Regions from separate parts of the Homo sapiens genome. Here regions 1, 3 and 4 are each reported to be linked to region 2. Evidence: microRNA targets listed by miRTarBase, many of them from high-throughput screens and not tested one by one. Region 2 holds a microRNA gene; each other region holds the end of a gene's coding sequence.

Region 1 (3,000 bases), not on the chromosome of region 2:
GGCCGTTCTGCCTTAAGTGTAGAGAAGAGCCATGCCAGGGCTTGGCGCTCTTGGGTCATGGTAATCCTGAGAGAGTTCTCTGGTGGGGCAGCTGAGGTGCTGTCCCAAGCTGCTTTGTATGTGGGTGACTCCGTGGGTGCTGACTGGAGCTTTGTTTTCCCTTCACTTCTAATATAACTTCCGGTGCCGTCCTGGCTGCTCTGTCGCTGGGGAGGGAGACGCTGGGGCAAGTTCTCCTTCCTCTGTGGCTGTCGAGAGGAGAATGCCAGGTGACGGGGCTGTGGGCAGGGCCGGACTCATGTGGCCGTCACTTCTCCTTGCCAGACCTATGAGGACCAGCACAGCAGTGAGGAGGAGGAGGAAGAGGAAGAGGAAGAGGAAAGCGAGGACGGCGAAGAAGAGGATGACATCACCAGCGCCGAGTCGGAGAGCAGCGAGGAGGAGGAGGGGGAGCAGGGCGACCCCCAGAACGCAACCCGGCAGCAGCAGCTGGAGTGGGATGACTCCACCCTCAGCTACTGACCCGTGCCCCCGGCCACCTCGGTTTCTGCTTTCGAAGACTCTGCTGCCATCCGTTCTCCCAGTCCCAAGGGTCCACGATGTACAAAGTCATTTCGGCCAGTAGGTGTGCAGACCCCTCCCCGCCACGATCGTCGCTGTGCTTGGTGTGTAGGACCCTAGGCTCCCCGCCCACCCTCTGCCTGGTCGCGCTCTTCAGTCCCACGAGGAGCTGACACGTCCTCTCTGGCCGCCATCCGGCTCGCACAGGGGCCTCCCAGCGCCTCAGGCCCCGCGTTTGTGTCTGGAGTCTCCCCCCGGGGAGAGGACACTGGCCCCTCGCACTCCAGAAAAGCCATGCCAGCTGGGCTCGTTGACAAAGGGTAAAACATGCTCACTCCCACCCGGTAATCATTTTTTTCTTTTTTTAAAAAAAGTTTTTATTTTTTCCAAACTAGTGCATGTATAAATAATGGCAGGATGGGGGGTACTGTGTAGATGATTAACTGACTTTTTAATATTTTGTAAATAAATCGGATTCCTTGTGTCCTTTGTGCTAGTGTAACCCGGGACTGGAATGTAAAGTGAAGTTCGGAGCTCTGAGCACGGGCTCTTCCCGCCGGGTCCTCCCTCCCCAGACCCCAGAGGGAGAGGCCCACCCCGCCCAGCCCCGCCCCAGCCCCTGCTCAGGTCTGAGTATGGCTGGGAGTCGGGGGCCACAGGCCTCTAGCTGTGCTGCTCAAGAGACTGGATCAGGGTAGCTACAAGTGGCCGGGCCTTGCCTTTGGGATTCTACCTGTTCCTAATTTGGTGTGGGGTGCGGGGTCCCTGGCCCCTTTTCCACACTCCTCCTCCGACAGCAGCTCCCTGGGCAGTGGCCTGGTCTCACCGTGTGCAGCCTTGTGGTTTATGCTTAAATGTACATTTTCCTGCTGGTAAAAGGAGAAACTGAGAGGTGTCCTGCAGACCGGCTGACCACTCCTTTTGGAGACGGCAGGAGGCCTGAGCGATCCGTACTCAGAACGTCCAGGAGAGACGCATGGCCCGAAGTCAAAGTGCTGGAATTTTCCAAAACAGCCTGTTCTCTCCTCTCTCCTCCCCAGAGCACCCCCTGCCATCAGGGGGGTTGAAATCCCTCTCCCCCAGGAGCCCTGCTGCTTTGCTTGGTGGTAGGGCAGGAGAGCAAACAAACAGTCATGGTCTAAAACCCACATAGCACTTTGCTCTTAGTTACATGTAAAATTTTAGATTTCTAAAACAGGTGGGCAATCATTTTGAATACTGTTCTGTGACCCTGACTGCTAGTTCTGAGGACACTGGTGGCTGTGCTATGTGTGGCCATCCTCCATGTCCCGTCCCTGTAGCTGCTCTGTTTAGACAGCGGACAGACGCTCACGCCCAGGGGATGTCCTCACGCTGTCGCCGCGCGGTTTCCCTTCGCAGATGTGTATACTCATGATAGGTCAGAAAGTGTATCCGCTACAATAAAGTTCTGGTTCTAACTAACTCCAGCCGGAGCGGGGTTTGTCTTCTCTCCTGTTTTGGTTTTAAACCTACACTCCCTTGTTTCTTTTTGAGCCGAGAACATAAAAGAACATAAAAAGGCTTTTTCTTTCTTTTCATCTGCCTTTACTTCTCATTTCAAGGTTTCACAGAGTGCTGGTCTCAACCCACATCAGTGATACTTAACTAACTTGCCTTCCCCAGACAGAAACATGAAATGACTTAAAAAAATAGAAAATATTCTTCTCGCCAGGCACACAAGACTGTACACCCAAAACCAGAAACGCTGTGGCTTTGCAAAGTGTGCTCCCACACCCGCGCACACAGGCGCACTTAAATAAATAACGCGCACGCACGGCTTTCCCCATTTCGAAACAGGCAGACGGTCTAGTGAGTTTCAGCACTTGCTGGGAACAGGCGTGTGGCCAGGGAGGTGCCCCGCGGGTGGCAATGACTACTGACGGACCCCTGGTGAATCAGAACAGAGCTGGCACCTGAGCCGCTGAGCGGGCGGCTACTTCTGGCTCTGTTGAGTTTTGGAAGACCTTTGAGAAATCAACAGCATCACCGGGCAGGTCCTGAGTCCATGGCCTGATATGTTAGGATCACCTGTGGGCTGCTAAAAGCCCACAGTCCTAGCCCCATCTGCAGAGTTAGTTGGCTTCTGAAGGCTGGGAGAAGCCCTAGAACCTGCATTTCTAAAGCTGCTCAAATCCAGGCCTTTGGAGGCTTAAGACTAAGCCTGCACCATTTCAAACTAAGTATAGTCAGAGAGAAAGATCCCAGCACGCCCCCTCGTTCTCACACTTCTGGTACCTCAGCACTCTCACAGCAGGTTCCCAAAGGTGATGGTTCTGGAAGAGTTCTGGCCTCATCCTTTTGTTAAAACCTGCTTTCAGAGGTGGCTTAGACAATGGCAGAGTGGGCCGGGCGCGGTGGCTCATGCCTGTAATCCCAGCACTTTGGGAGGCTCAGGCGGGTGGATCACCTGAGGTCAGG
Region 2 (3,148 bases):
GGCCAGGACCTGGCAGTGCTGTCTCCATACGGCGGGGGAGCTCGGGGGATGAGGGTAGTGAGCGGCAGCGGCGGGCAGGTGTCCCAGGCTGGACCAGGGTCTCCGGAGTGGTCACCAAGGGCAGCTGAGTGGATGGGAATGGTGATGGTGGCACAAGAGGCAGGACTGGCTTGCTGGGTGTGTCTAAGAGCTTGATCTTGCCACCCCTGAGGTCTTCCCGTAGTGAGAAGGGGTTGACTCGAGTCAGATTGTCCCCCCAGTTGGGGGGTGATTCTGGTGATGGGGGCAGGAAGAGGTCTGACCGGCTTCGGGAAAGCCGGGGATCTGGCCTGGGAAGCGTGGCAGAGGGACCCCCTCTTGCAACAGAGCCTGTAGATAGAGAAGTCTGGAATCACTGTCCTCAGCATTTGATCACAGCTCCTTGAGGGCCTCACTATTCTCCAGGAGGCTGGTGGGACTAGAGCTTGAAAAAGGGAGTCCCACCTGGTGCTTTGGAAAGGGGTGATGTCATCTCCAGGCCCCTTTTACTTCTTTCCCCTCCTCTCCCTCAAGCTTTAGCATTAGGAAACTGTCTTCTTGGAGATGTCCTCCCACCCTACCCCAGCCCGACCCCCAGCCTTTTCAACTAATAAATATACTTAGCCTCCCCCATGTCACCTCTGAATTCTAGGGAGGACAAAGGCCAAAGGACTCAAGCTGGATCAAGGTCAGGCTCCCTTACCCTGATTGTGTGTCAGGGCGGTCCTGGTGAGTGGGGCTGGCTCAGGCAGCTGCTCCAGGATCCATTCCAGGTGCTGGGTAATTTCGGTGAAGGGGGCACGGGTGCTGGGTTCCAGCTGATGGGTAGAGACAGGAACGGCTTCACTCAGTGCTCCGAAAGAGGGTCTCTGAGTTTCCTCCCATCACCTGGGTCCCACAGGGCAGCCATGGCAGCTTACGGATGGGGGCAGGGTGGGGCAGGAAGGAGTGTGAGGCTCTTACGTTGCAGCAGTGGATGGCCAGGAGCAAGAAAGGCAGTGGGCAGTCATCCCCCACCAGAGTTCGGAAAGCAGGCACATCCAGGCCAAAGTCCTGTGGGGACAGAAGGAGGGACCTCCAAGTCAGCTTTTCTTGGGTTCTCCTTCTGCTCCCCAGTCAGAACCTCAACCTCTAGGGAATCCTCCTTGGTTATGAGCCAGCTAGTCTGGAATTCTTTCTTTGCAAACCTAGAAACATTCACCTCAGTGCGTGGTAGGTAGTCAGGGTCTGCAGGTACTCGGGCGATGAGCTCACAGAGGACAATCCCGAAGGCAAAGACATCAGCCTGGGGGTCAGAGATAATAGTGTCGGGGAAGAATTAACAGTTTTCATTTCAGAATTTTGACAGAATATAGCAGAATTTGGTTGAGGGTGGGGGATCTTGACAGTTTTCATGTGTTAGAAGGGTGCCTGTGAGGGGCAAAGGGATCTTGGGGACTCCTGAAGATCTGGTAGGGTTGTTTTGGGGATGGATGGGGCTTTATGAGAATACCTCAAGGGTCTCGGAAGGCCTTGGGGATCTGAAGGGTTGATGTCTCACCTTCTCATCATACAGCTCACCCCGTAACACCTCTGGAGCCATCCAGTATGGGGAGCCCACCACGGCCAATGGCTCCTTCCTTGCCCCCTCCCTGCAGGGGCAGGGGCAGAGTGGTCAGAAGCATCCTATTCAGGCATCCCCCCCAGGCAAAAGGGGATGAGGTGAACTCCCTCCGTTCCCCAAGGGAAACATCCCTGGGGCTCTGGGGACATCAGATAGGGGCACTCTGGGAGATTTGGGGGGAACAGGGACATTCATCTCACCTATACACAGGAATCTTTTCGGCCAGCCCGAAGTCACCCACGACAGCGGTGAAGCCTCGATCTTCCCGTCGGACTAGACAGTTCTGACACACACACACATAGTATCCCCACGCACTCATCACCTTCTGCTGTCTGGCCTCCCAATGTATAACCCAAAGCCCTGTCACTCCAGCATAACTCCAACCCTCTCTGCTCTCCCAGTTTTTCAAGGCACTTCAATATTGCAACATCATCCAACACTCCAAACACAGGGTGCTACTCAGTCCCTCCGAGCACTCCCCTCACCCTGGTCCCCCAATATTCTCCAATGCCTTGCCACTCCAACATCCTAATATATCTGTTATCCATATTCCAACATCCACAGGCCAGTTACAACCTAATAGCCTCAAACCCTCTTTCATGTCTCCACCCACCCTGCTAGCCTACCTTGGATGTGAGGTCGCGGTGAAATACACCTTTGGAGTGCAGGTACCGCAGGCCTCGGGCAATGTCCAGGGCCAGGTGGAGCCTGACCGGCCAGGACAGGGGTTCAGGGGAGCTGAGCAGCTGTTCCAATGTCCCCCCATTCATATACTGGTGCATAGGAGGAGAATGGGAATAGATGTCAGACTTCAGTCTGTATTCTAGGTCCCCCACTTACACGCTAGGGGACACTCCCGAGGATCACAGAGGTCATAGGGGTAAGACTGTGCTGTAGGACCCCCCCCATCCATGTTCTAGGATTGCCCCGTTCAACTCAATAGCCATTAGCCATGTGCAACAATTTAAATAATTTAAAAAATTTTTTAATCAAGTTGACCCACAAAAAATAATCTAAACAATGAAAATAATTTAAATTTAACCACATGTGGCTAGTGGCTACTGTATTGGACAGCACAGATAGAGAACATTTCCGTCACTGAAGAAAATTCTATTGGACAGCACTGTTCTAGGGGATACAGAGAATAAGACCAGTTGAGGCCTTTTATATGTGGTTTGCCTAAAGGAAAGTTCAGGAAAGCCTCCCCTGAGAGGAGATCCTGTTGCCTCTCACTAGTCCTCCGTAGATCCACCAGGCCTGTTGACTCCCTTTATCCTTGGGGGTGAAGGGGGGTGGGGATCCCTCCTTCCTGGCCTATCCTCACCTCTGTAAGAGCGTGCAGCTGTCCCTGGTGCACACAGACTCCCATGAACCTGCAAGAGGATGGGGAAGATAGAAGGATAGGCTATTAAAGGCCTCAGCTCCTCCTCAGTTCCACTTTTCCCGCGGGATCTTTCCCTTTCTCTCCCGCCCAGCAAGCTGCCCAGAGACTGGGGCCGCTCACCTTAGGATGTTGGGGTGCCTGAG
Region 3 (3,000 bases), not on the chromosome of region 2:
GGAAGAACAGAACTTCCATCAGGGAGCAATGCCAGGAGAACCCTTGGCACCTCAGTGCTTCCTCCATGCTAGGCACACGATCATACCCATTAGTATCTGACTGAATTGAAAATACTTTACTCACGCCTGTAATCCCAGCATTTTGGGAGGCAGAGGCAGAGGCAGGTGGATCACAAGCATCAGGAGATCAAGACCATCCTGGCTAACACGATGAAACCCCGTCTCTACTAAAAATACAAAAAAAATTAGCTGGGCGTGGTGGCAGGCGCCTGTAGTCCCAGCTACTAAGGAAGCTGAGGCAGGAGAATGGCGTGAAAGTGGGAGGCGGGGCTTGCAGTGAGCTGAGATTGTGCCACTACACTCCAGCCTGGGAGACAGCGAGACTCCGTCTCAACAACAACAACAAAAAAAAAAAGAAAGAAAGAAAGAAAGAAAATAAAATACTTAGGTAGATTCAAGATCTACTACCAAGAATGAATTTCACTGGAAGAAAAAAAATGCATTTTTCAATATGAAAATGTGAATGACATTAAAGCCACGTCAACAGATGAGTACCGGATGATGCACATAACAAGCCAGTGAGCCCCAACAACTCAGGGGTCCTCTGGCCACGAGCAACTGATGGCTTTGCTTTGAAGATCATCATTGCTCTTAGAATTTTATCCTAACAGTGTCACATTATATTCTCTATTTACAGAGGCTCATAGGAAAATTTCCAATACTACAAAGAACTTTAAAAAAAACACCCTTTAATGACTCATTTTATTAAGCAAATTCTCCCTGCTAACATCTTTGTTACTTAAATACTTAAATTTCCTATACTTCATGCAGACCTAGTTTCACTTTCCCGTGTTCAAATAATTCCCTTTCAAAAAATATTCTCTTCAAGGCACTTTCCTCCAGTGTGCACGGCCCATTCACTTTCAGCAGACAACGACGATGATAAATAAAAGCAATCACAGGATCTGTAAGGTGGAGGGTTCAGGTTGTTTCTTTCCCAGAATCATTAAGGGGCATATTTTCATCTTGGGGCATAAACGAACTGAATCTCACAGTCTGGGAGGAATTTAGACCACCTGTCTGGCAGCACACTGGCTGGAGGTGGACTGTGTGCGGACGTCCTGGGGGAAGGGTGTGGAGGAAGGCAACACACACGAAACACTCTCGTCCACATCCCTTCCCCTGCTTTTTAACTGGATGGAAATATGGCTTTGTGTTGGTTCAGGTGACATAAAAAGGTGAAAACAGTAGATCTCAAATTATATTTTACTTTAAATACCAAAGGTCAAAAAGGGGTCCACAAATCAGTAGCTCCTGAGACCGTGCGTGCGCGCGTGCGTGCTTAAGTGGGTCTGTTTCAATTCCACATGGGTTTTTCCACACACTGGTTTCTGGCATCGAGCGCTGGTCTGCAGGACACCAGAGTGCCTTTGTGTCCCTTGCTGACACTACCGCATTGTGTTTTTCTACCCATTAACCAAGGATAAATGACCTAGATATTGTGCCTGTTAAAGCCTCATTTTTCTTTTGCCCTTTTGTTCTTCAGTGTACCACATTATCACACGCTGCACACATTTCTAAGTATTCTCGGTCTCAGATGCCCTTTTGAGGGAGTAATAGGAGCTTTTTGTATGCATTTCTGTTGAGATATCTGGAGTGGAATTATGTGAGAGTAATTCAAGGTTTTCCTTCCTGTCTAGTCTTCGAGACAGTTTAGTGTCTTACCAAAAGCTAATCTAGTATAAGAGGATATATCAAGAAACTGTACAAAAGCCAGAATGCTGTATTTGCATCTATTGCGAATACAAAAAAAATAGAGTGAACACCAGTTTCCCTATATACTACATTCTATAATTACATCTCTGCATATCATGGGTCACTTTTATTAAAAGCATCATTACTACAGTTGGCAGCAATTTACATTTTATCTTACATGATAGCAGTTTTCAAAGAAAAAAATAAAAGGACATCACAACAAAGAAAAACAATACATTTACAAAGTCATGTCTGTAAACTTCAAGGCTAGTTTAGAGCTGAGGTAATGCTGTTTTAGCTTTGTGGCTAAAGTAACAAAGTCCTTTAATTTAAAAAAGGTACCTGATTCTCTCTTCTCTCACTCTTTATTTATTCATCTATTTATTTTGTTTTTACCAGTGCATTACAAGACCACGAGACAATGGAACTGTAGTTCTGTCTGGCAAGAACCCTCCCAGTAGGTTAATTTTCCAAAGGGACCCTTCACATTCAACAGCTGCCTTATTATTGCTGCGCCTCGGGACAGAGGCGTTCACACTAGCGTGGAGATTGTCAGAGTGTATGGATGTGTGTGTATGCACGAGTGTGGGAACCCCCATACAGTCAAAAAGGGAAACAAATGAGCAAGTATGATATGTATGGTAAATTTCAGCTTGACCTTCACAGCAAAAAAATTAAAAATTAAAATTAAAAAATTAAATATATAACTTCATACTTCCTTTGAGCAGCACTTTCTTCCATTAGTGCCACTCAGTTACAAATTGCTCTTTATTATAATACCAATGGTACCAAGAGAAAAAAAAAAAGCAGAGCATTATGTAAGTTTCCTTAAAAAGACATGATCACCTCTCAAATTTCATCTCTCCTAGGGATAATAAATAATGCACTGCACAATACTTAATGACCAAGATACCTTTTGACACACCTGTATAACATGACTTGAACTTTTTTTTTTGCTACACTATGTTACAGAACAGCTTATAAAACTAGGTATGAACATTAACTGTGAGTGTAAACAGTAGGACTACCACTTGTCAAAAGTTTTAAACACTTGAACTGGAACTGGTACTGGTTATTCATCATTTTCATTGTTTTCTATTTCATCCCCCCCATCAAGTGAGTCTAGCTCTTCACCCTGTGCTATTTCGTCTTCTAAGAGGGAGGACTCTGCAGTCTTATCCAGGCTCTCCTCGGCATCGCTGCCTTCAAGGGTCTCTCCATCTTTAAAGGGTCCTCCCTCAGCCT
Region 4 (3,000 bases), not on the chromosome of region 2:
TATTTTCTGCTTTTATGATACTTGAATATCTAATAAAAGACAATATTTAGCCAGTCACGGTGGCTGATGCTTGTAATCCTAACACTTTGGGAGGCTGAGGTGGGTGGACTACTGGAGCCCTGGAGTTCAAAACCGGCCTAAGCCACATGGCAAAACAGTCTTTACAAAAAATACAAAGATGGTGGCTTATGCCTGTAGTCGTACCTACTCAGGAGGCTGAGGTTGGGAGGATCACCTGAATCTGGGAGTTTGGGGCTGCAATAAGCCATGATTGTGCCGCTGCACTCCAGCCTGGGTGACAGTCTGAGACCCTGTCTCAAAAAAAAAAAAAAAAAAAAAAAAAAAAAAGACTACATTCACTGTATACGTGGCCTTTTCCCCCTAACTAGCTATGTAGCTTCTTAAAGGCAAAGATTCTTCATAGTGCTTTGCACATGATAGGTGCTGATACTCATTGGATGAATGTATATAGTGAAGAATTTTAGATCTGATTACCACAATTGGGATCATAAACATGTATAAACTCCTTGGGAGTCTGCCTTATATACTTTTTATCCCCCTAAATGTTCCATTAATGTTGCAGAGAGGCTCACTAGTTCCTGGAGATGTCTTATTAAGTACTGAAATGTGATTTTCCAAAATTTTCTTTACAATACAGGCAAAAGATAAGTAAATTGTGGACAAAGCTTTCATCTCTATCAGCAGCTATAGAGAGGAAGTAAACAGCTTAGCCCCTAATACAGGAGGAAGTTGTTCAACTACAGGCTTGTTAGTAGCAAGTTAAACCAGTTACATTTTATAAAACAGCCTGAGTGGTAGGGAAGCTATCACTTTAATACTCTAGAGGCAGAATGCCACATAGGACTTTGGGTCACATATTTCTTTTCCAGGGTCTCCTCAAAATGCAGTTTCTATTTACAGTTGACTTTGGCCCCTATTTACCCATAAAATGTCAAAATCAAGTAGTATGAACATGGAAACAGGAGCAGGGACTAAGGTTTGGTCAAGTGGCCCTCATTGTTCCAAGAGTAATTTAGGCTATGTAAACTTGAAAAATATGGGACCAGATTACCTTTTGTCTCTAAATTCTACTCTTCTTTAAGTAGCTGGCACTGTATCTCTGCCAGGGCACAGAAGTGGGCTCCTTACTATTCTGACCACTAGCAAGTGGCCAACTCTTCAAATACAGGGTAGCTACCTATTTCACGTGAAAGGCCTCAGTATTCTGCTCACTTGAACTACGGAAAATAGGCCACAATACTTGGTTACAATACTGGAACTCTGAACCTATGTGGAGGAGAGAAAAACAATGGTGAACGAGATACCAGCTGGGCTCTTTCCACATTCAGGGCTCAGCAGTGTTGGGGTTTCACTTGTCTCTAATCCTGAAGAGGTATCTAGCCCTGGAAGGAAGCTGAGCCTGTAGCTAACGCATAAGCACAGTGTATTCAATAAAACATTTTTATTCTGTACAATATATATGTGTATTTAAATATATATACATATGTATATATATATATATGCACAGAGAAACCTTAGCCAACAAATCCCTGAGTCCATGGGAACCCAGGACACTAACAAAGGGAAAGGAGAGTCCATGCCTAAAGAGTAGGAAATATGGCAACATCTTTCCCTTTCCTCCTGGTTCCCTGCAACAGAGGGAAGGGAACAGTCACTACAAATTACTAAAACGAGGGTTTAGGTGGGGCAGGAAAGTGGGGTGAGAGTGGTAGGATGGGGAACTCAGATGCCACCAGTCTGGGAAAGTAAAACATTTGATCCAGCATGAAAGCCAACATGACCGCAGAGGAAAAAGACCAGACTGATGGGCATGCAGCTGGCCTTTGGTATATGCCAAGCCTTTGCTTGGTAGCCCCACGCCTGGGCCAGCACAACAAATAGCACCTGTGGGGCCTATAAGCCGGGAGGGGATGGGGGAGATAGGGACTGGGGAAATGGCCCTTGAGTGAAGGAAAGGGAGATAAAGCTGAGGAAGAGGCCTCAGGCCTCAGCACAGGGTGGCAACACTACCATTCACTGTCCCTGTGCCATTTCTTCAGACTCTGGGCCGCCACCACCACCAGATGGCCAAGAGCAGATAACCTTTTGTCCACAGCCAGGTAGAGATGGGCAACTTACATGGCCTTGAGAAGAGGTATAGAAAAAGGAGTGCTTTTGAGGGCTACCCCCTGTTGTGACCATTCCTGAAGTGCAGAGACCACACCAGCAAAACATGCCCAGTCTTAGTAGTGGGGACGAAGAATTGATGAGTGGATCCAGTCAGCTCCGGCAGACAGGCCACAGGGTTGCCAGGTTTGATGAGCCAACCAGGTGAGCACACAGCTTCGGAGCACTGCCCTGAATCCTGTCTTCTCCCTCAGGACTGCCCTTTCCTGGCCACACCAAGTTTGGCACCTCTCCAGAAAGTTGGCAGGGAGCAAGTGGCAGACAGCACCCCTCTCTCCCTAGCCTATTAACACACAGAGCCGCCAATGGCAGGGCAGCATGGCCAGAAGTCACCTTATATATTGTAGGGACAGCAATAGAACTGTCCCTGCCTGAAGGGTTCAGAAGCCCATGTTGGCCTGGGCTTCTCCTGCTGTAATGGCTTGTACATCAGTGACATGGCCGATGCCCTTGGTGACACCCTCCCGGAACAGCAGTTTGGCGCCCACCTTCAGGTACTCTGGGTGTTTCAGGAAGCGGAAACGTACCACTGCCTTCTCGCCTGTCCGCAGTTTGTCCTGCAGCAAATAAGTGGTCACTCCCCTGGCCAGTGCCTTCTGTCCCATTCTCTGCCAGCCGTGGCTCTCCACCCTCCAGAGGCCTATCAGGCCGCTACCCACCCTAAGTGGGGTTTTATTCCCATTGTGGGATCAAGGAGTTCTCTGCCAGTCTGGGGCAGGCCTCCCTCTTTTCTGACCTCTGGAGAAATGGAAGGCCAGGTCCCTCTCACCTTGGCATGGATCTTTTCCACCACTGCCGTCTGACGTACGTTGC

Evidence for each region. The annotated mature microRNA hsa-miR-4667-5p reads ACUGGGGAGCAGAAGGAGAACC and lies in region 2 at 1,114-1,135, opposite strand. An mRNA with a match to its seed (bases 2 to 7 or 8) in the 3' UTR can be bound and repressed. Matches are read on the target gene's strand: a 7mer-m8 pairs with bases 2 to 8, a 7mer-A1 pairs with bases 2 to 7 and ends in A, and an 8mer does both.
Region 1: the mRNA of CLSTN1 is a reported target of hsa-miR-4667-5p. Seed matches in the 3' UTR shown: 8mer at 1,130-1,137, 7mer-A1 at 1,138-1,144 and 8mer at 1,595-1,602.
Region 3: miRTarBase lists CHD7 as a target of hsa-miR-4667-5p. The part of its 3' UTR that is shown has no 7-base or 8-base seed match.
Region 4: miRTarBase lists GTPBP2 as a target of hsa-miR-4667-5p. Seed matches in the 3' UTR shown: 7mer-m8 at 1,948-1,954.

What each region holds. Positions count from the first base shown.
Region 1 is chr1:9,728,030-9,731,029 of GRCh38, reverse strand. CLSTN1 (calsyntenin 1) reads left to right here. Exons shown (of 19, transcript NM_001009566.3): 19 at 325-2,104. The coding sequence ends at 522. It overlaps PIK3CD (phosphatidylinositol-4,5-bisphosphate 3-kinase catalytic subunit delta), which reads right to left. Exons shown (of 24, transcript NM_005026.5): 24 at 1,916-3,000. Among named protein-coding and RNA genes, the nearest start is that of PIK3CD-AS2, 42 kb to the right of the region's middle.
Region 2 is chr9:35,606,083-35,609,230 of GRCh38, reverse strand. MIR4667 (microRNA 4667) reads right to left here and starts at 1,137; the gene lies at 1,072-1,137. TESK1 (testis associated actin remodelling kinase 1) reads right to left here. Exons shown (of 10, transcript NM_006285.3): 2 at 3,126-3,148; 3 at 2,946-2,994; 4 at 2,248-2,394; 5 at 1,822-1,904; 6 at 1,559-1,649; 7 at 1,220-1,303; 8 at 982-1,071; 9 at 722-836; 10 at 1-369. RefSeq lists silencers at 3,104-3,148, 3,145-3,148.
Region 3 is chr8:60,865,761-60,868,760 of GRCh38, reverse strand. It overlaps CHD7 (chromodomain helicase DNA binding protein 7), which reads right to left. Exons shown (of 38, transcript NM_017780.4): 38 at 733-3,000. The coding sequence ends at 2,828. Among named protein-coding and RNA genes, the nearest start is that of CHD7, 190 kb to the right of the region's middle.
Region 4 is chr6:43,619,047-43,622,046 of GRCh38, forward strand. It overlaps GTPBP2 (GTP binding protein 2), which reads right to left. Exons shown (of 12, transcript NM_019096.5): 11 at 2,957-3,000; 12 at 1,448-2,744. The coding sequence ends at 2,568. POLH (DNA polymerase eta) reads left to right here. Exons shown (of 11, transcript NM_006502.3): 11 at 1-1,477. Among named protein-coding and RNA genes, the nearest start is that of GTPBP2, 8.7 kb to the right of the region's middle.